Homo sapiens: one gene and its partners. The protein of the gene in region 3 purifies or fractionates together with the protein of the main gene of each other region. This does not show direct contact. Each region holds a gene or a part of one and is shown on either strand. Other genes may lie near its edges.

Region 1 (4,578 bases), on a different chromosome or scaffold from region 3:
CAACCTTTGCAAATCTTATGGATATAAAATGGAATCTCATTGTGGTCCTAATTCATATTTCCCTGACCAATGCTACAGAACATCTATTTATTTAAAAGCCCTATTTCCTCTTGTGTAGTCTTCACTATTTTTCTATTTTTTTAAATAGGAATTCTCTATATTTGTGATTATGAATCCTTCATCAGTTATTTGTATTATAAATGTCTTCTCAAGTTGTGGATCATCTTCTCACTTCAAGTGTTTGCTTAATATAAGCCTTGAGTTTTAACAGAATTGACTTAACCATCTTGTCCTTTATGATTACTACTTTATGTCTCAAGAGATTCTTTCCTGCCCTAAGGCTTTTTTCATCCAAACACTGACAATTTTTGCTTTTTGTATTAAAGCCCTTAACATATTTGGAACTTATCACCAGGTAAGGTGAGAGAAAGTAAAATTTCTTTTTTTCCCACATGAATAGCCATTGTTCTGGGATTACTTAGGGAGTGGTCCTTCCTGTCCCCACTGACTTGCCATGTCACCAGGTCATTTTGCAAAGGTCAACATATGCACGGGTGAGTTTCTAGGCCCTTATTTTGTTCCCCTGCTCAGAATGCCTACCTCTGCACCATGACACTGTCTTGACAATAAAACTTGGTATCACATAGGGTGCGTGTCCCCAACCTCTCCTTCATATTTAGAAGCATTTGGTAATTTTAAGTCCTTTGCTACTCCATATAAACACCTGCTTGTTTCATTCAATAAAATCTGTTGGAATTTCCATTGAAAATGGTATTAAATCCATAGATCAATTTTAGGAGACCTGATACCTTTATAATCTTGAATATTCCTATTCATGAACAAAGATGGTTCTTCATTTGTTCCTCCCTTGCTTCTTCGTCTTCATCCTTCGAATCAAACCAGGACTCCAATGTTACCTTCTCCTGACTATTGCCACCACCATCTTGAAGTAGGATGAGTGTATATTTTGCATGCAAATTTTTGAAATAACTGCAATCATCCAAGAAAAAGATGACATGGTTGAGTTTGAGGCTTGTTGCTTGAGTGGTGGCACCATTCTTCATTACTGAATATATTGAGAATTGAGGGGAATAAAATGGTAAGAAATGAGTGACTTTATGCTGCCCACTTGTCCAACTCCGCACGGGATATCAGAGCCCAGCTGAGAACCTGCTCAATCCTGGAAACAATTAAAAGATGTTAACCGGCCAGGCTCGGTGGCTCACGCCTGTAATCCCAGCATTTTGGGAGGCTGAGGTGGGCAGATCACGAGGTCGGGAGATCAAGACCATCCTGGCTAACACAGTGAAATCCTGTCTCTACTTTTTTGTATTTTGTAAAAACACAAAAAATTAGCCGGGTGTGGTGGCGGGCACCTGTAGTCCCAGCTACTCTGGAGGCTGAGGCAGGAGAATGGCATGAACCCAGGAGGCGGAGCTTGCTATGAGCCGAGATTGCGCCCCTGCACTCCAGCCTGGGCGACAGAGCCAGACTCTGTCTCAAAAAAAAAAAAACCAAAACAAAACAAAACAAAAAAAATGTTAACCACCCTTAACAGTAACTTTCTCTCCTCATTTCCTTTTTGTTTCCTCAGGGGTACGGAAATATGAAATTATGGGAGGACGAAAATGCCCAGAAAGCATGGCTGCTTGACCACACTGGGGCAAATGGCTTCAGTGTTTCTGACAAGCAAGCAGTGAGCGCATGCCTTTTGCCAAAGGGAGTTCTGCAGCCATTTAGTCCAGCCTTTAGAAAACGAGGTCTTCCGAAGAGAACAGAGCTACACCTTCCCCGTCAGAATCCACTGTTATAACCACTTAGATTAAAATGCCCCATTTCTCACAGTATCATTTTGTCACAGGGTCACACTTCTCTATTCAACTCAGTTTCAGGCTTTTCTTCTAAGAGGAAAAAAAGACGACTAAGTGGCCTCCTAGATTCCACTGTAAAAACAGAAAAAAGCAGGTTGACTTGCTTTGAAATCAAACGACCTCTGTCTTCAGTCTGTCCCCATCTCAGAGGGACCAGGGAAACCACAGGAACCCTGCTCACTGCTCTTCACGCAAGGTCCCAAAAAAACAGCGCCTGTTTTCCAGGCACTGCAGGAAGACCCTGCTCCTCTACAAGGTTCCACTAAATAGTCTTCGAAAACCAGAAGCAGGTAAGTGTCAGCCAGATGCACACAGGTTTTTTGTTGTTGTTATTTTTAAGGCACCCTAGGTTGTATTTCCTTGAGGATCATCAAGAATAAAAAAGGCAAAAAAAAAAAAAAAGTTAGTCTGTATCATATCCCAAAATGGGTCCAAGCCATTTCTCAACCTCAGCCACAGATATGTTCTTCCTCAATGCATAATCCTCAACCTGCAAAAGATGAGAAGCATTTTATTAAACCAACATGATAAGACTTTTGGAATAGAAGTTTCCACAAGATTTGCCAAGAAACATTAAGTACCTTGCATTTCTTGTCTTAATAGCAATCTACAGAGTTAAATGGAGATAGATATTTATCTACCAAGTTGCCTTTTTCTCTGGGCAGAAAAACATGTAGTAAACATCTGATGCTTAGAAGCTGTATGTGTGTGTGTGTGTGTGTGTGTGTGTGTGTGTGCGTGTGTGTGGCTTGCATGTAGAAGTGAGGGCTAGAATAGAGGTATTCTATTGAAATCAAATTAAGACATTAACTGGAGTAAATTTCTTCATCCTTTCCCCTCACTTTATTCTCATTCACATTTAAAATGAGAGAGGTTCTAGAATTTCATTTGAACTAGGCAAGCCACATATAATGCAACAGCTAGCTTACCTGATCCTTGGAAATCTTCCCCACAGCAAAATATTTGGACTTCAAATTGGAGAAGTAGAGGCCTGAGACTGCTGAAGCAGGTGCCATTGCTAATGATTCTGTTAACCTAATGCCTAGAGGGAGCAACACAGGGAAAATGCTTATGGACTCAGTGTCTAGCACAGGGCCTGCAGCTAGCAGGCACTCAATGAACTCTTGTTGAACAAGTGAACCAAAGCGAGCTCATGCCTTCTAGGTAGACACATGACACAGCATGAAAGCTGTGATCAGAGAAGTCTAGCAAATTCCTGCCAGGTGAAGAAACAAATTCGGGACATGCAGATCTCCTCTAACCCAGGGGGACAGGCCTGGGAAAGACTCTACACTCCCACCTCCAGCCATCCCAGATCAGTTACAGGTGCCCTAATTTGCTCCTAAGCCTAGACCTTCTCAGGCAGGAGCTCTACCCCTGGAGATGAGAACAACAACTGAACAGCCTCCACCGGCTCTGTGCGGCCACTGATACTAGGGACGACTGAGAGCTCCAGTGAAGAAGGAACCCACAACATTGTGAGAAAGAAGAGACAGTTTTCCTTGGGATCTGAGAGCTCAAACAGACCCTCAAGGATATCTATTCGAAGCCACTCATTCTATGAACAAGGAAACAGAGCAACATGAAGGGTGAGTGCTTTGCCAGAGGTCGCCCAGCTAGCTTATGGCAGAAACAGGACTCAAACCCAGATCTCATGACTCCTAGAGTTAGTGTTGTTCCTGCTGAAGCAGATTCAGCACAGCTCATGGTTTCTCACTTAAATCTGGATGCCTTTATCAGCTTTGATGGCATGCTTTTTATTAATTCCGCTGAAAACTGTGAGCTTAGCCTGGGCCATCTCAACTACATGAACTCTGCAGTAATGACAGAACCAGGACATTGACATGACAATGTGCAGCCACAGAACCACGAGCCAAGTCAGCTCTGGGCACAGGACGCTGAGGCCGGGTGTCTGGGCCTTTGTCTCAGAAAGGCACATGCCAGCTTGTCATTTTCAGCTTTTAGAATCAATCCACAGGCAAAACATAACAGAGAATTATGATTACAGAAGAATATAAATGTTACTAACAGTGTAAAAGTAAAGAGAAAAGAGGGCTGAAGGGAAGGCTGGGCGCTCTGCAAGACCAGCACCCAGGGACACCATCCACAAGCAATGAGACAAGAGCATGAAGCAAAGTGACATTACTGAGGGACAAAGGTCGGTCTCTAAGGGAGGGATTAAAGACATCACCATGCCTGTGACAGGAAACTGGGGCAGGAGAGGCACAGGATGGTATACATAAGCTAAACTCCCATCTGGCGTAGGCCAAGAGGAAATAATTTAAATTGATACATCTAAAAATAATGATGTAAGAATACTAATCAGTAATACTGAAGTAAAATGCAGAATAGCTACGAGTGAAAAAGGACAGCATAAGGGACAATGTGATTAGAAGCCCTTCCATTTTAAAAACATGTTTAACCCTAAGTGCCAGTATGCTGATAAGAGTATCTACTGAAGAAGGAAGACAGGAACCCGCAGCCTCCTGGCTCCTACCTGTAGACTGCTCGATGTCTGCGAGTCTCCACATGGTGAGCTTCTCGGTGTGGTCGGGCTGGCTGGGGTAGCCAGGAGCCGGGCGGATGCCCTTGTACCGCAGCCTGCGCAGGTCTGCGACGTCCAGCTGCTCACTGCCACAGTAGGCCCACAGTTCTCGGCGAACTCTTTCATGGAGCTCTTCTGCAAAGGCCTTGGGACCCAAAGCAG
Region 2 (5,034 bases), on a different chromosome or scaffold from region 3:
GCACCATCTTGGCTCACTGCAACTTCTGCCTCCTGGGTTCAAGTGATTCTCCTGCCTCAGACTCCCGAGTAGCTGGGATTACAGGTGCAGGCCACTACGCCCAGCTAATTTTTGTATTTTCAGTAGAGATGGGGTTTCACCATGTTGGCCAGGCTAGTCTCAAACTTCTGACCTCAAGTCATCTGCCTGCCTCAGCCTCCCAAAGTGCTGGGATTACAGGCGTGAGTCATCACACCTGGCCAGTTATGTATTTTAAATGCAGCCTGCCTCTCCTTCCAGTTCTATTAAGTAACCTACTGATACTAAACCTTTCCCTACAGGATGTGATACGAATTTATGATTCAAGGGGTATTTTTAAATTTTATTTTATTTTTTAAAAGATGGAATCTCTCTGTCCCTCAGGCTGGGGTGGATTGGCACAATCATAGCTCACTGCTGCCTCAAATTCCTTGGCTCAATGGATCCTCCTGCCTCAACCTCCTTAGTAGCTGTGACTATAGGCACATGCCACTGAGCCCGGCTAATTTTTAAATTTTTTGTAGAGATGAGGTCTCACCATCTTGCCCAGGCTGGTCTCAAACCTCTGGGCTCAAGTAATCCTCTCCCTTACCCTCTCAAAGTGTTGGGATTACAGGCGTGAGCCACCACGCCTGATCTGTTTGTGTTTACAGTCATGAAAGGAGAGAAACCATTGTTGTAAAAAAAATGCCAATTCAGGCTGGGCGTGGTGGCTCATGTCTGTAATCCTAGCACTTCGAGAGGCCAAGACAGGAGAACTGCTTGAGGCCAGGAGTTTGAGACCAGCCTGGGCAACACAGAGAGACCCCACCTCTATTAAAAAAAGAAAGAAAGAAAAAACCAATTCATTATATGATTTGTTTCCCATACAGCGTTTCAAAATACTGCCAAATCAAATATCAGATTTGTGTATTTTATAATGAGATCTGTCTTGAGGAACAGTGTAATGCAATGCACGTAGAGACTATCACTGGCTAAAGCCAACCTATGAATTGTTAATATTACATTCTTATAGTCTCTGTTTCTAATCTTAATGTTCAATGCCAGGTCAGTCTAGAAACCAATCTTATGGGGCATGTGGGGAAAGAATCAGATAAAAGAGGCACACAGAATGCTCGGCTATCAGATGGAAGTACAACAATCTAAACAGGAAATATACATGTACTCTGCAGTTACAAATACTGCAGACATCATCTGTAGCCTGTAAGTCTGCGATTAAGATAAACAGAAAACCAGATGCTGGGAGGAAATATTCTGAAGAAAGGAGTTAGGTCATGGAATTACCTGGCTCTTCTTTTAAACCAATTGGTTTTCCGCTTGAACACAAAGCTGTACTCATCACTCTGTCCATACGCGATCACAATATCCTCTAGTTCTTCCATCACAGTCTGCGCACATTTGGTCATCAGCTGGAGAGCACGGCTGTCATTGGGTTTTGCAAAGTTGTGCTTCTCAGCAAACCTTCACAGGGGAAAAAGGGAAGAAAGCATGGATGGAAGCCTGTCATTAACAACACGCTCTGTTGCTAGATAACAGAGGCTGTTTGGAGGAAGATAATGTAATAGCACTGTGAACTCAAATGCTCAACTAGCCACAACCTGATCCATTTTCTTAAGAACTTAGTTTTTTTCCTGCCCTGAAATTGAGAAAGCCAGACAGAAATGCTAAGCCTCAACTCTCCTTTCTGTGAAATGGGAATAAAAGAATATTTACCTCATTGGGTTGTCCTGAAGATTAGGGAGAAGATAAAAGTAATCATACCTAGCTCCTAGTAAGTGCTCAATAAATGTTAGTTATAATAATCATTAACAATGCAGCCCTCTTCAAAGATTAAATTCCCATCTTTCTGTTATATTTCTTTCTCCCCCTCCCTCTTTTTCTGAGACAGGGTCTTGCTCTGTCACCCAAGCTGGAGTGCAGTGTCCAATCACCGCTCACTGCAGCCTTGACCTCCCAGGCTCAAGCGATCCTTCCACCTCAGCCTTCCCAGTAGCTGGAACTACATGTGTGCACCACTGCGCCGGGCAAATTAAATTTTTTCTTTTTCTTTCTTTCTCTCTTCCTTCTTTCTCTCTCTCTCTCTCTTTTTTTTTTTTTTTTTTTTTTTTTTTTTGTAGTGGCGGAGTTTCACAAACAACAACCACAGAAAAAACAAAACAAAAACAAAAACTTGGTCTCCAACTCCTGGCCTTAAGTGATCCTCCTGCCTCCCGCGCCCAGCCTTCTCTTTTTTTCTGACTCTCTGTTGAATCTAGTCCATGTGGCCTGTTACTGATAATGAAGCACAGACGTTAAGTATTGCCCACAAGCAAGGCTTACACAGACTTCTGAACAGTCAGCATTCAAAGATATCTAACAGAATAGCTAGGCAATTGGCTTAAGAGCTTAAATATTGTGCATGAGAGTGACTTTTAACAACAGGTCCTTGCTAACAAGTCTCTGTTCACTTAACACGGGCACTCCAAGCCAGATCCTCATCACGGGAGCACATCGCCCATTCAATTACGCTAACAGCCAGCGTTCAGGCACTGTCCTAGCCAACACGCAGGGCGGGGCAATGCTCCATGCTGCGCACTCATTGGCTACCGCGTTACCCTGGTAACCGTGACTGGAGCGGGCGGGAGGACTTGCAAGGGAAGAAGCTGGATTCCCCGGAAGCGCTGGCGCATCGCGACGCCCCGAGTCGAGCTCGCTCACCGATGGAAATTCCGGCCGTCCAGCCGCACTACCACCCAGCAGTGTGCCAGGCAGGTGTCGTCAGCCTCGAAGTCCCTCACGTACTCGAACTTGCTTTTTGCCATGGTCGCCCCCAATCTCAGGTACCGTCTCAGAGTGATGGAAATGGTGGCCAAGGAATCGTGAACCTTAACTTTACAGGCGCCCCACATTCTACACGCGGAAAGGAAAGGGCCAGATAGCCCCGCCCCGGAAGTGTTCTCTTCGCGGCTACTCTAGCCGTAGGGCAGTCATAGTCTCTCTCGCCTCTCCCTGTAGTTCTTAACCTCCCAGGCAAAGAGGATGGAGGTTTAGGTTCCTCCGTTAGCACCTTCCACGCTTGCTTCTTCCTCCTCCCGTCCTGCGGCAAATCAGTCTCACGAGGTTTTTAAAAATTATTTTTTATCTGCTGGTCTTGACTTACTGGCAAAAGCAATCAGTGTCCCCGTTAGTGCCCAGATCAAAATCATACCCCAACCTAAAAAAAAAAAAAAAAAAAAAAATTCTTTTTCTGGTGTTTGAAGGTGTAGCTGTGATGTTTCCCCTTTTCTTAGTGGCATTTATTAACTTGTAGAAAATCTGGAATACACCAAAACTATAGTTAAGAAAATTAACACTTTGTTTCTCCGTCTTTCCCATCAAAGCATTGTGGATGGTTCCTTTCAGTCTTTTTTCTTTTTGTGTATGTAGGTTTACACAGGGAATGCACAAGATTGGAATTATTCGCCTATACAATGTTTATATATTTTTCCACTCAGCTTGAGCATTTGCCAGTATCATCAATTATTCCAAAGTGTGATTTTTAAAAGAAAAATGGACTCAATATTCCAACATATGGGTATACTAAATTGATTTATTCAACTTTTTCACCATTAAATAATCACAGAACCAGTGTTTGATATCTTGTTGCTGGTGGATAATAGTAAAAATAAAATCCTAATATTTGTGTCATACTTTGTGATTTACAAAGCTCTTTCAAATTCATTACCTACTTACTTACTTTTTTTTTTTTTCCATCCTCAAGAAAGATATTCAGGCCAGGCACGGTGGCTGACGCCTGTAATCCCAGCACTTTGGGAGGCAGAGGCAGGAGGATTGCTTGAGTTCAGGAGATTCATACCAGCCTTGGCAACGTAGCAAGACCCCTGTTCCTACAAAAAAGAAAAAAAATTATCCAGGCTTAGTAGCCCATGCCCGTAGTCCTAGCTATGGGAGGATGAGGTGGGAAGATACTTGAGGCCAGGAGTTCGAGACTGCAGTGACCCATCATTAGCCACTGCACTCCAGCCTTGGTGACAGAGCAAGAATCTGTCTCTAAAGAAAAAGAAAAATATTCAAACAATATAAATCCTTTTATATGTAGCAAAAAGTCTCTCACTGACTCCTAACAACATACTTTAGGCAGTTACTGTTACCAGTTTTTTGTGTATCCATACAGGGATCTATATCAGTATGTGTGTATATCCTCATAATAGTACCACAAATGGTAGTCATCACTCCTTTGATGCTCAGAGTAACATCAGAGGGATGCAAAAGAGGAACTGGGATTTCACCTTTACAAAGGGGAAATCTGAGACTCAAAGAGAAAAAAATAATTTACATAAGGTCACATATGTGGCAGGACCAAGACATAAATTATGACATCCTGCATCTTTTCTTTGTTTCTGTTGCTGTGAAGTCAGTTTTCTGTAGGTTATCATTCCTCACCTTTTACTTCCACAAACTCCTCTCTCCAAGCTGACCAGGAGACAACCAAATCTTGCCTCCTCTAGGAGCCCTACTTTCATTAGGTGAATTTTTCAAAATTACTTATCAATATGAATTCATGATTTTTATTTTTTTTATGTGTATGTTTTCGAGACAGAGTCTCACTGTCACCTAGGCTGGAGTACAATGGCATGATCTCAGCTCACTGCAGCCTAGACCTCTTGGGTTCAGGTGAACCTCCCACCTCCCTTCCTAGTAGCTGGGACTACAGGTGCGTGCCACCATGCCCACCTAATATTTGTATTTTTTTTTGTAGAAACAGGGTTTCCCCATCCACATCCCACACTGGGAGATGAGACTCCTATCAGGGATGGGCTGAATATAAAATAAGCCAATTGGCTTTGGGTTGCTTTGCAGTGAAATGCATAGTAGAAGTACTACACTGTCTTCTCCCATAGCATCTATATGGTCTTTACATAAATTAAGCATTAAAATAACAGCATAGCAAGGAGGTCTTAAGATGCTAATCTGCCCTTTAGTAAAAGGGTTATAAAAGGTTTGTAAAGTTTTCACCTCATGGTCAAATTGGTTAGG
Region 3 (5,208 bases):
CACTGGCAGTGGGACGAAACCGCTGTCTGTCCAGGGCTCTCTTCCTAGAAGGTCTTAGGAACTCCCAAATGGGTGCTGGCTGGGGTTGCCCGGCCCGGTGCTCTCAAGGAGAGCTGAAGCTAGTTATTGGGTGCAGATGCTGGCTCTGACCCCTGCCCCTTCCTCCCGGGCTCAGCTTCCCCATCTGTCATGGAGTAATAACAACCCAGCCTTCTGGTCCACTGAGGAATGTGTGTGCCTGTGTGTTTGACGCTCTCAGAACAGGCCTGCAGCGCTGTGAGCCTTGGAAGGGGGCCTCACAGCTGCTGCCGCCACCTTGGAGGCCCAGGATGGGACTGAGAAGGGGAAGGGAGAGGTCAGAGCCACAGCTGTTGGGCAGGGACCTGCTGTAGGAAGAGAAGGCCAGGGAGGCGCTGGTGGTGGCCTCAGGCTATGCAGGTGATGCCCATTGTTTCCAGGGCCATCCCAGTTTGGAGGTTCCTGTTTCTAGAGGAGGTTCCCTTGTGACCCCCTCATTTCCACACCCGAGCAATGCTGAGGGCTGTGGGGCCCCCAGGGGCTTGAGTGTGGTTTATGGCACAGCAGGGACTGATCACAGTGGCACCGGGTGTCAGTGGCCAGTGGTCAGTGGCCAGGAACCCTCAGGACCCTCCTCCTTGTGTGGGTGGCATTTACCCACCCACAGGTCACGCTCAGGACCCGCATCTCATTCCGATCCTCCTTGTGTGGGTGGTACTTACCCACCCACAGGTCACGCTCAGGACCCCACATCTCATTCTGAAGGCCGGGCACAGGCGGTTGTTTTCTCTCCAACTTCGGTTTCCCCATCCCCACTCTTAGGGCACAAATGCAGGTGTAGCTTCCCCATGCCCACTCTTTAGGCACAAATGCAGGTGTAGCTTCCCCATCCCCACTCTTAGGGCACAAATGCAGGTGCAGCTTCCCCATCCCCACTCTTAGGGCACAAATGCAGGTGCAGCTTCCCCATCCCCACTCTTTAGGCACAAATGCAGGTGCAGCTTTCCCATCCCCACTCTTAGGGCACAAATGCAGGTGCAGCTTTCCCATCCCCACTCTTAGGGCACAAATGCAGGTGCAGCTTCCCCATCCCCACTCTTAGGGCACAAATGCAGGTGCAGCTTCCCCATCCCCACTCTTAGGGCACAAATGCAGGTGCAGCTTCCCCATCCCCACTCTTTAGGCACAAATGCAGGTGCAGCTTCCCCATCCCCACTCTTTAGGCACAAATGCAGGTGCAGCTTCCCCATCCCCACTCTTAGGGCACAAATGCAGGTGCAGCTTCCCCATCCCCACTCTTTAGGCACAAATGCAGGTGCAGCTTCCCCATCCCCACTCTTTAGGCACAAATGCAGGTGCAGCTTTCCCATCCCCACTCTTAGGGCACAAATGCAGGTGCAGCTTCCCCATCCCCACTCTTTAGGCACAAATGCAGGTGCAGCTTCCCCATCCCCACTCTTAGGGCACAAATGCAGGTGCAGCTTCCCCATCCCCACTCTTAGGGCACAAATGCAGGTGCAGCTTCCCCATCCCCACTCTTTAGGCACAAATGCAGGTGCAGCTTCCCCATCCCCACTCTTAGGGCACAAATGCAGGTGCAGCTTCCCCATCCCCACTCTTTAGGCACAAATGCAGGTGCAGCTTCCCCATCCCCACTCTTAGGGCACAAATGCAGGTGCAGCTTCCCCATCCCCACTCTTTAGGCACAAATGCAGGTGCTGTGAGCGCTTTAGAATCCTCTGCTGCAGGTGACTTTGCTTCAGCGAACCACAGAATGTTCACATGGTTTTATGCATTTGTTATTTCAGGGAAAATCAAGGTTAAAGATGTCTTCAGAATTTGTATTTTTGGGCTGGGCACGGTGGCTCACACCTGTAATCCCAACACTTTTGGAGGCTGAGGCAGGCGGATCACGAGGTCAGGAGATCGAGACCATCCTGGCTAACACGGTGAAACTCCGTCTGTACCAAAAATACAAAAAAATTAGCCGGATGTGGTGGCGGGCGCCTGTAGTCCCAGCTACTCGGGAGGCTGAGGCAGGAGAATGGCGTGCACCCGTGAGGCAGAGCTTGCAGTGAGCCGAGATGGTGCTGCTGCACTCCAGCCTGGGCTACAGAGCAAGACTCTGTCTCAAAAAAAAAAAAAAAAGAATTTGTGTTTTTGAAACTAAATATAGCAGGTCATTAGTTACTTATAACTGGTGTTTTATTAATAAAAGAAGAAAAAATTTAAAAACAGCCATGATTCCAGCTGCACGGAGCCTGGATGGGAAAGTGCATCCTCTGGGCTGAGCACGGTGGCTCACACCTGTCATCCGAGCGGGCTGGGCGCAGTGGCTCACACCTGTCATCCCAGCACTGCGGGAGGCCGAGGCGGGTGGATCACCTGAGGTCAGGAGTTCAAGACCAGCCTGGCCAACATGGTGAAACGCTATCTGTACTAAAAAGACAAATTTAGCAGGGCGTGGTGGTGGGTGCCTGTAATCCCAGCTACTTGGGACGCTGAGGCAGGAGAATCTCTTGAACCCGGAGGCGGAGGTTGTAGTGAGCTGAAATTGCACCACTGCCCCCCAGCCTGAGTGACAGAGCGAGACTTTGTCTCAAAAAAAAAAAAAAGAAAGAAAGTGCATCCTCTGGTAGGCCTTGGGCCGGGGGCGGGCATGAGAGAGCTGCGCTGGGATGCGCTGCCAGGGCACACTTGGTGGGTCACACACTCTTGTCAACTGTTTGGGGGCTGGAGAGTAGTAGCACTCAGCTCACACGGGCCTTCTGCAGGGAGTGGTGGGAGGGCCTGTGAGTAAGGGCTCCGGAAGGCCCATCATTGGGACCTGGTGCCGCCAGTGGGAGCAGGAGGAGCCTGTGCCTTCTCTGGCGCCAGTCATCCCAGATGCCACTCAGGGCTTGGCTGGGTTTGCCAGCTCTCCAGGTTGGCACTGGTAACGCCAAGATGGTCCTGGGAGCCCATCTCCATTCAGCCTCGAGTTCCCTGGCTTCACTGAGGGAGGAGCCGTGATAAGGTGGCTGTGGGTTCGCATTTTGGACTTTGTTATGTCAGAGTCTGCTGTGTTTTGTGTTTATGGTGGCAGCTGGATGAGGGCCAGCGACTTCAGGTGTTGACTGTCATGGTGGGCCCAACAGTATCCCTGCAGCCACAGCATCCTGCCTGCTGCCCTTTGCCTGTCCTGCAGACGCCAAGGCCCTAGAGCTTTGCTTTGATGGGATGTACCCATGTGGGTGGACACTGGAGGGAGCTGGAGGGGATAGAAGCGGGGCCTTCACTAGGGGCCAGGACAGACCCTTGCACTGTGAAAAGAGGCCTGGGAATGGAACTGTCCGATGTTCTGAAGGCACACGGGGCCCCGCCGTCTGGAGCAGGGGCACCTTGCGGGCTGCATGGCCACTCTGTGACGCTCGTTCCCCACAGACGTGGTTGAGCTTGCATTTTCTCCCCTCAGCACAGTCTCATTTGGGAAGAGGAAAGGGAAACTTGCACGCATGGGCCGGTCAGGGCACTGAGAGGCCTTTCTGCTCTGGCACTGCCTGCCAGGCGTGCACCTCAGGGGGCCCGTCCGCTCTAGCAGGCAAATGGGGCGTGTTCTCTGTAGTCAGAGGGGCTGTGAGAAGACAGGAAAGCGAGCTTAGTGGGTATCAGGCAAGGGGGTGAAATTGGGTTGTGAGATGAGAAAGCAGCGTCATTGCAGGGCTGGGGGGCCGAGACTCGGCAGGGTCGCCGAGAGCTCAGTGAGCGAGCAATGCACAGGCGGCTCCTCGCCGCAGGGGCCTCTGGGGGCCGAGGGGCTCTGGGCCTGCACCCCCTCTGTAGACACCTGGCGAGTGTCCACCCCTTGGCCCAGCTCCTTTCCTCAGTTTTCCTCGGGCGTGCTCCCAGTGCTTTGTTTGCTTGGCTGTGGGTGGTGACCCGCCCATGCTGTCTGGTTGATTTAACTGGTGTGTCTTCCAGCTACAAGAAGACTCAGGAAACTCTTTCACAGGCAGGACAGAAGACTTCAGCTGCCCTGTCCACAGTGGGCTCTGCCATCAGCAGGAAGCTTGGAGACATGAGGTGAGACGCAACCCTGACTCTGCTGCCCTGAGACCTGGCCAGGAGTGAGGTGAGGTGTTGGAGGTGCTACAGGAAGCCTGCCTGGAGATCAGGGCTCAGATGCACTGGCTCAGGGATGTGGCCATCCATCATGGCCCCGACCAGTCTGTGTGCAGACCCTTGCCTGGGAGGTTCGTCCATCCCCGTTGGCTGCTTTTCTGCCGTTGCTGTGTTCTTCAGGGAGGGTTGGCTGCCAGTGCTGTTGGGTAACTTGTGGTGCTCGGGGTTGGTGAGGGAGGAGTCTGCACCTTGAAGCTTCACTGAGTGGCAGCGACTCCAGCCCAGGGGTCAGAGTCAGGTCAGTGTGGGACGGCAGTCCTCCACCATCTCTAGGACAGGGGCTCGGCGTGGTACTTCCTCAGGCTGTTTCCCAGGTCTCAGAAAGTGCAGTCAGACGCCAGGAGGCCCTGAATGAGCCTTCTCTCCCAGAGGCTGGTGAAAGCCTCCTGGCCATCAGAGGTCCCTCAGCAAGCAGGGCTGGGGCCAAGGAGTGAGCAGGGGGCCGGCGCTTTGTGGCTGGCATGTTTGCTCTTCCTTCCCTGTTCTAGGCTCCCTGACTACAGCATGGTGATGAGGGGATTGAGCCAGAAGCCTGGGTATGATGCTTGGCTGGGCTACCTCCTGGCTGGGCACCCCAGCTGGGCCTCAGGCACGCCTTCTTTCACAGGGGTTGTAGGAGTGGATGATATAGGTTGTCACCATCAACAGCATCCTGGCCCCAACTTCTGGGTGCTGCTGCCCACCCTGCCCTGACCCCTTTCCCATTCTCAGAACTGGTCTTCTGGCTTTTGGATCTCAGGGAGTGCCTCCCTGTAGCTCTGACCCAATCCTGGCAAAGATGGGTGCAGGCTTCCTAAAGGACCGGTGTGTGGAGCACAGTGCTGACCCCACCCAGCCCTCCCCTCTTCCCCTCTTGTGGCCCCTGCAGGATTCAGAGATACGTACATCTCCTGCTGGGCTGCCTGCCTGCCTGCCTGCCTGCCTCCCTGCCTGCCTGCCTTAGGTTAGGTGTGTCCTGCCTCCCCGCCTGTGGTTGCCAGGTGGGGGTCGTCCTGCGCCAGTGCTTTCCCCTGACCACTAAGCCACAGG
Region 4 (5,017 bases), on a different chromosome or scaffold from region 3:
TTCTTTTTCTTCATGAAGCAAGGACATTTTGTAAAAGAGTTTTTGCATTTGCCTGGCACACAGATTTTCAATTAAAAACTGTTGAATGAAGAAATGAATGATTAAACTAATCACATTTAAGGAACATGAACATGATAAAAATGGCCCTACCATTACAGGAAATAAATCCAGAGAAGAAAAGTTATTGACCCAATCTTGCCGACCAAGATGGGCTTACAGAGCCCTGGGGAATATCCTGGATTTAGGCAACTGGAAATTGCCCTTGGTATGTGAAGAGCCCCAGGCAGGGAGTCATAGATGGCCTTCAGCCTCATCAATGTCACTGAAGAAGTGTATGGACAGGGCAGCTTACTAGATTGTACAAGGTTGTGCAGGGTTTCCTCAACAGGAAAATGAGAGCCCCGGACTAGGTTCACCTCTTATGTGACACATATCTTGAGTGTTTTTAAAATTTAATAATGTTTACTTAACAAATATTTACAGAGCACTTACTATACACCAATTTTAAGCACACACAAATGTGTTAAAGGCTTTACAAATACTAACTTCTTTAATCCTTATAATAACTTTATGAAGATATTAGTACCATTATTATCTCCATTTTACAAATGAGCCATGGCATCCAGCCTCCCATTTTAGATCTAATGAAACATAATACTCCAACGTAGACAGTGTCCACACCCACTACTTAGAAAATGCTGGCCAAGGAGGGTATGGCTAAGTTAACTTGGTCATCAGCATAAACCAGGTCTAGCACGTCAATGTTGTGGTTTTCCTTTCAAAATCTAAAAATGGTTTGAAATACAGAGCTTTAGAGGTGAAAAAGACCTTCAAAAGAATTTAGAGCAATGGTTTTTGAACTTTTTTTCCTTTAGAATCCCTTCCCCCAATTTTCTCCAGAATCCCAATATGTAAAACAAATGTAAACAGAGCTAGTCAGGAGCCCTGTCTGCCTGGCCTCCTCCTTGCCCAAAGCTGATTCCTGAGGCACCTCCAGCACTCCAGAGAATAGCCTGAAAGCCTCTAACTTAGTCCAACGATCTCATCTGACAGATGAAAAAACTGGACCCATGAATGTTTTATACTGTTTTGATTTAAAACAAATTCGCACAGGAACTGATCACGGGTCTCAGATCTCAAGTTTTCTCCCTCTCCTTAGGCCAGTGATCATTAAACTACACTAAAATGTCTCTTCTTTCTCTGGCCAATGTCTCCAGTTTTGGAACAGGACAAACTAAGAATAATCCAGACTACACACAAGTTTCCATAACTGTCCTTTCTAAAATACTGTATTTTTAAAGAGGAAAATATACAATGGTTTTCGTGTAACTTGGCATGATTTAAAGATATATTCACTTTAAGACACCTTTACATTAGAATCTAGAATTTTAAAATGGAGAAGCCTCTAACTGCAGATGTGAAAAATCAACTGTCATAGAATAAGCTTTCAGCTAACCAAAGCAAAGGAGGGCTGTAGGAGACACCTGATTCACACTTGAATCCCACCCCAGTGTCCAGGTATACCTGTTACAGCATTTTGTTTGGAGCCAGGTTTTGCATGGATGGCTATGGTGACGCATCCTTTAGGATCAACTGCCACAGGACCTAAGGGAGGAAGTGGTCTCTCTGGTTCCTTGCTCTGGCTTTTACCCTAAAATGACAACCACACAACTTTACAGGTTACAAAATATTTTCCCACACATTTAATTTGATTCTTCCACTACCCCCTTTCACCCTTAACAGACAAACTAGGCTCATCAGTGGTGTCCAGGGACTTCTGGCCACCTAGAAAGCTTTTCCCACAACCTTCAAGGCTCTACTCAATTTTCCCACGAAGGGTTCCCATCAACCCAACAGTGTTTTTTCCCCCCTTGCAAGAAAACCTAACTCTGGCTTCTAAACCTTAATGCTTGCTCCTCCCTCTGCTTTGTATTTCCAATTCCTTGGGGGCAGGGATCATTTATTATTCATCATTGTATCTCATGCAGTCGGAGCTAATAAATGTTGGTGAAAGTGTGTATGTCTGCATGTTGCGGGAAAGGGAGGAAAAAAAAATAGTGCTTGATATTTAAAGGCCTGTTATGGGACAGGGGCTGTGCTAGGAACTTTCGTTCAACAAATATGTAGGCAATGGATATGTAAAGATGAAAAGGTACATGGTCCTTGCTCTCAAGGAGCTCGGACTGCTGCGAGGGAGAAAGAACATACAAAATTATAATACACTGTGCTAAGTGCACCGATGAGATAGGCACAGAACATTACCCCACAGGCAAATCAGCATTGGGGCACTGGAGAATGCTGCCAGCAGGAGGCAGTGCTTGAGCTGAGTCTGAGAAACGGACTGGGGTTGGCCAAACAAAGATGGTGGAAATGGGAGTGCTGTATTCTTGACAGAAGGGGTGCGATCAGCCAAAGCAAGGGAGGAGAAAGCAGAATACAGCCTCCTGGGGAAACGCAGGTCATGCCGCTGCGGGAACATGAATTGCTGGACTGGGAGTGCGGGTAGGAGGCCAAAGGTCAGCACACGCAGCCCAAGGAGAGCTCGGCTGCCGCCGGGCCCAGCGCTCAGAAATCACCAGGTGGACGGCAGCGCAGCCTACTGAGGCGGGGCGACGGCAGCAGGCCGCAGCTCTGGGGGTGGCGGCGGCTGTCCTGAGCCCCGGAACTGAGAGACGGCAAGCCGCTGGCAGTGCCTCCACTCACTCCCGGGCCCCGCTTCTCCCGCGCTCTTCAACAAGTACCCCTGAGGCCCACCCCTCTGCCGCCACGGGACCTGCTACTGGCCTTGGTCGTCGCACCAGCCTTCTTAGGCATCTCGGCGCAAAGAAGCCGAGCGGAGCCCCGAGTATTGGGTGTTGCCCGAAGGTGCCTCAGCCCGCTGCGGAGCCGCAGCATCCCCGCCTGGGAAGGCGCCGGAAGAGCCCTCTGCGCTTGCGCAGGTAGCCGGCAGGAGCGGCCCCACCGCCCGGCGCATCCGCTCTGGCCAGAGGGCGACACCTTAAGGCCGGCGGGAGCGAGTCTCGTGGCCGCAGAACATGCGCGAGTCTCTTTTGTTCTGGAACGGGCCGAGCCCCAGGAAGTGGAGCTGCGGAGCTGAGGCCTCACCGTGTCTTGGCCCACCCTGCTCAGCTGATAGGAAGGTGTGTCACCTCTTTCCTAATCGGGGAAAGAAAGGTATTGTCACTTCTCAGAATTGGAGAGCGCGGCAAGGAGTGCACAGGGCCAGGTGTCTTCTCGCTCCCACAGCCAAGCAGCAGATGCAGAGTCCCACGCGCTGCCTGTGGCCATCAAGTCGATATAGAGCCTCGTGGCGGCTTGGCCCTTGTGAATCTTCCACGTATCGATGGCGCACCTACCTTGTGCCAGGCGCAGCGGATCCCACAATGTAAAAGAAGAGGAAATACACTGCGACATGTGATATGGAGAGACATGAAACAAATCAGCAGAGGCAAGATCATGGAGTCACTGAAGGCTTTCAAGCAAGGGATTATTAGCAGCCCAATTTGCTGGGTTTTAGAAAGACACCGGCTGCACTGTGGCCGACAGAGGAAAAGCCAGAGACAGGGAGATCCGCCCCCTAAATGGGAGAGGGTGGCCTGAACTAGAGTAACCGCAGGGAGGGTGGAGCGCTGATCATTTCAAGGATCTTCAGGAACTGAAATGATCAGAACTTGGGAATGACTGCATGTGCGAATAAGGGGGAAAAGTCAAGGAAATGCCCAGGTTTGGGGCCCAAGGAACAGGTTTGGGAGGCCGAGGTGAGGAGTTCAGCTTTGGACATAATGAGTTTGAGATGCCCACAGGACATCCAAATACAAATGTTAAAGGGGTAACTGAATATATGTGACTGGAGTTTGCGAAATCAAGGCTGGTGATAGAGATTCTGGAATCTTCTGAAAGCAGATGGCAATTGAAGCTATGGAAATGGATGAGAGAGTGTGTAAAGAGCACGAGGGCCCAGGTTAGAACAGCAAGGGCAGGTAGAGAAGTCACCAAAGGACACTGACCAGGTAGGAGTACGGTGTAACGGCAGCTAAAGAAGGGCGCTTCAAGAGGGAACATCAACAGTGATGAACACTCTGGAGAGAACATGTCACATGTAACGACTGAGAAGTGGCCACAAGATTTAGAAATCAGGGTGGTGGTGGTGACCCGGGCTACAGCAGTTTTAGTGGAGAGAAGGAAATGGAGATAATTGTAGAGAATAATCCAGTGACTTCACTGTGAAGGAGCAATTGGTATCTGGAGGGGCACATGACATTCAGAGACTTATTTTTATCATATTTGAAGATTGGTAGGAAAGAGCCAGGAGAAGAGAGGTTACAGCAGAGGACGGTTCCTGAAGAGGTAGGATCTGAGCTCAAGTAGAGATTGAGTTCTCTACAGGAGGCCTTAGACACTCCTTCCTTCCTAAGGGAAAGCTTAGGTGGACATGTAGCTGTGTTTGTAGGTTTGGTGATGGGAGGTGGAATTTCTTTCATTAACTAAGGCGGGGGAGGTGTTGAAGGTATATTGGGACTCTTGAGAATGGCAAAGGGCTGACTATTGCAACTCACCCAGCGGTAGACAGTTAAGGGAGACCGTGAAATCATCTATGATCCCAATCTATAGTTACCTTATTTTATTTTTGTTTATTTTTGAGACAGGGGGATGGGAAGAGCCTGTCGCCCAGGCTGGAGTGCAGTGGCGGGATCTCGGCTCACTGCAACCTCCGCCTCCTAGGTTCAAGCAATTCTCCCTGCCTCAGCCTCCAGAGTAGCTGGGACTACAGGCGCGCGCCACCACACCCATTTTTTGTATTTTTAGTAGAGACGGGCGTTTCGCCATTTCGCCCAGGCTGGTCTCGAACTCCTGAGCTCAGGCAATCCACCCACTTCGGCCTCCCAAAGTGCTAGGATTACAGGCGTGAGCTAGCGCCTGGCCTATAGTTACGTTACTTTAGATGCCTGGATTCACCAGCTAAGAAGTTTTTTTTTTAATTAAATTTTTTTTTGGCCCCAGTGCTACTACCAAAGCA

What was found. Proteins that work in one complex are often made in the same cells at the same time.
Region 1: the proteins of TPD52L2 (region 3) and MTR fractionate together in Homo sapiens (co-fractionation; one large-scale study listed by BioGRID). This does not show direct contact.
Region 2: the proteins of TPD52L2 (region 3) and THG1L fractionate together in Homo sapiens (co-fractionation; one large-scale study listed by BioGRID). This does not show direct contact.
Region 4: the proteins of TPD52L2 (region 3) and C15orf40 fractionate together in Homo sapiens (co-fractionation; one large-scale study listed by BioGRID). This does not show direct contact.

The regions. Positions count from the first base shown.
Region 1 is NC_000001.11:236,895,341-236,899,918, reverse strand, and holds part of MTR (methionine synthase), read right to left. Parts: intron 4,562-4,578; coding exon 4,369-4,561; intron 2,914-4,368; coding exon 2,801-2,913; intron 2,362-2,800; coding exon 2,275-2,361; 3' UTR 1-2,274. UniProt on the Homo sapiens protein: Catalyzes the transfer of a methyl group from methylcob(III)alamin (MeCbl) to homocysteine, yielding enzyme-bound cob(I)alamin and methionine in the cytosol. MeCbl is an active form of cobalamin (vitamin B12) used as a cofactor for methionine biosynthesis.
Region 2 is NC_000005.10:157,729,313-157,734,346, reverse strand, and holds the start of THG1L (probable tRNA(His) guanylyltransferase), read right to left. Parts: upstream 2,928-5,034; 5' UTR 2,907-2,927; coding exon 2,716-2,906; intron 2,549-2,715; exon of another isoform or gene 2,338-2,548; intron 1,918-2,337; exon of another isoform or gene 1,737-1,917; coding exon of another isoform or gene 1,732-1,736; intron 1,480-1,731; coding exon 1,303-1,479; intron 1-1,302. UniProt on the Homo sapiens protein: Adds a GMP to the 5'-end of tRNA(His) after transcription and RNase P cleavage. This step is essential for proper recognition of the tRNA and for the fidelity of protein synthesis.
Region 3 is NC_000020.11:63,878,741-63,883,948, forward strand, and holds part of TPD52L2 (tumor protein D54), read left to right. Parts: intron 1-3,978; coding exon 3,979-4,080; intron 4,081-5,208.
Region 4 is NC_000015.10:83,008,713-83,013,729, forward strand, and holds the start of C15orf40 (UPF0235 protein C15orf40), read right to left. Parts: upstream 2,928-5,017; 5' UTR 2,896-2,927; coding exon 2,785-2,895; exon of another isoform or gene 2,774-2,784; intron 1,652-2,773; coding exon 1,525-1,651; intron 1-1,524.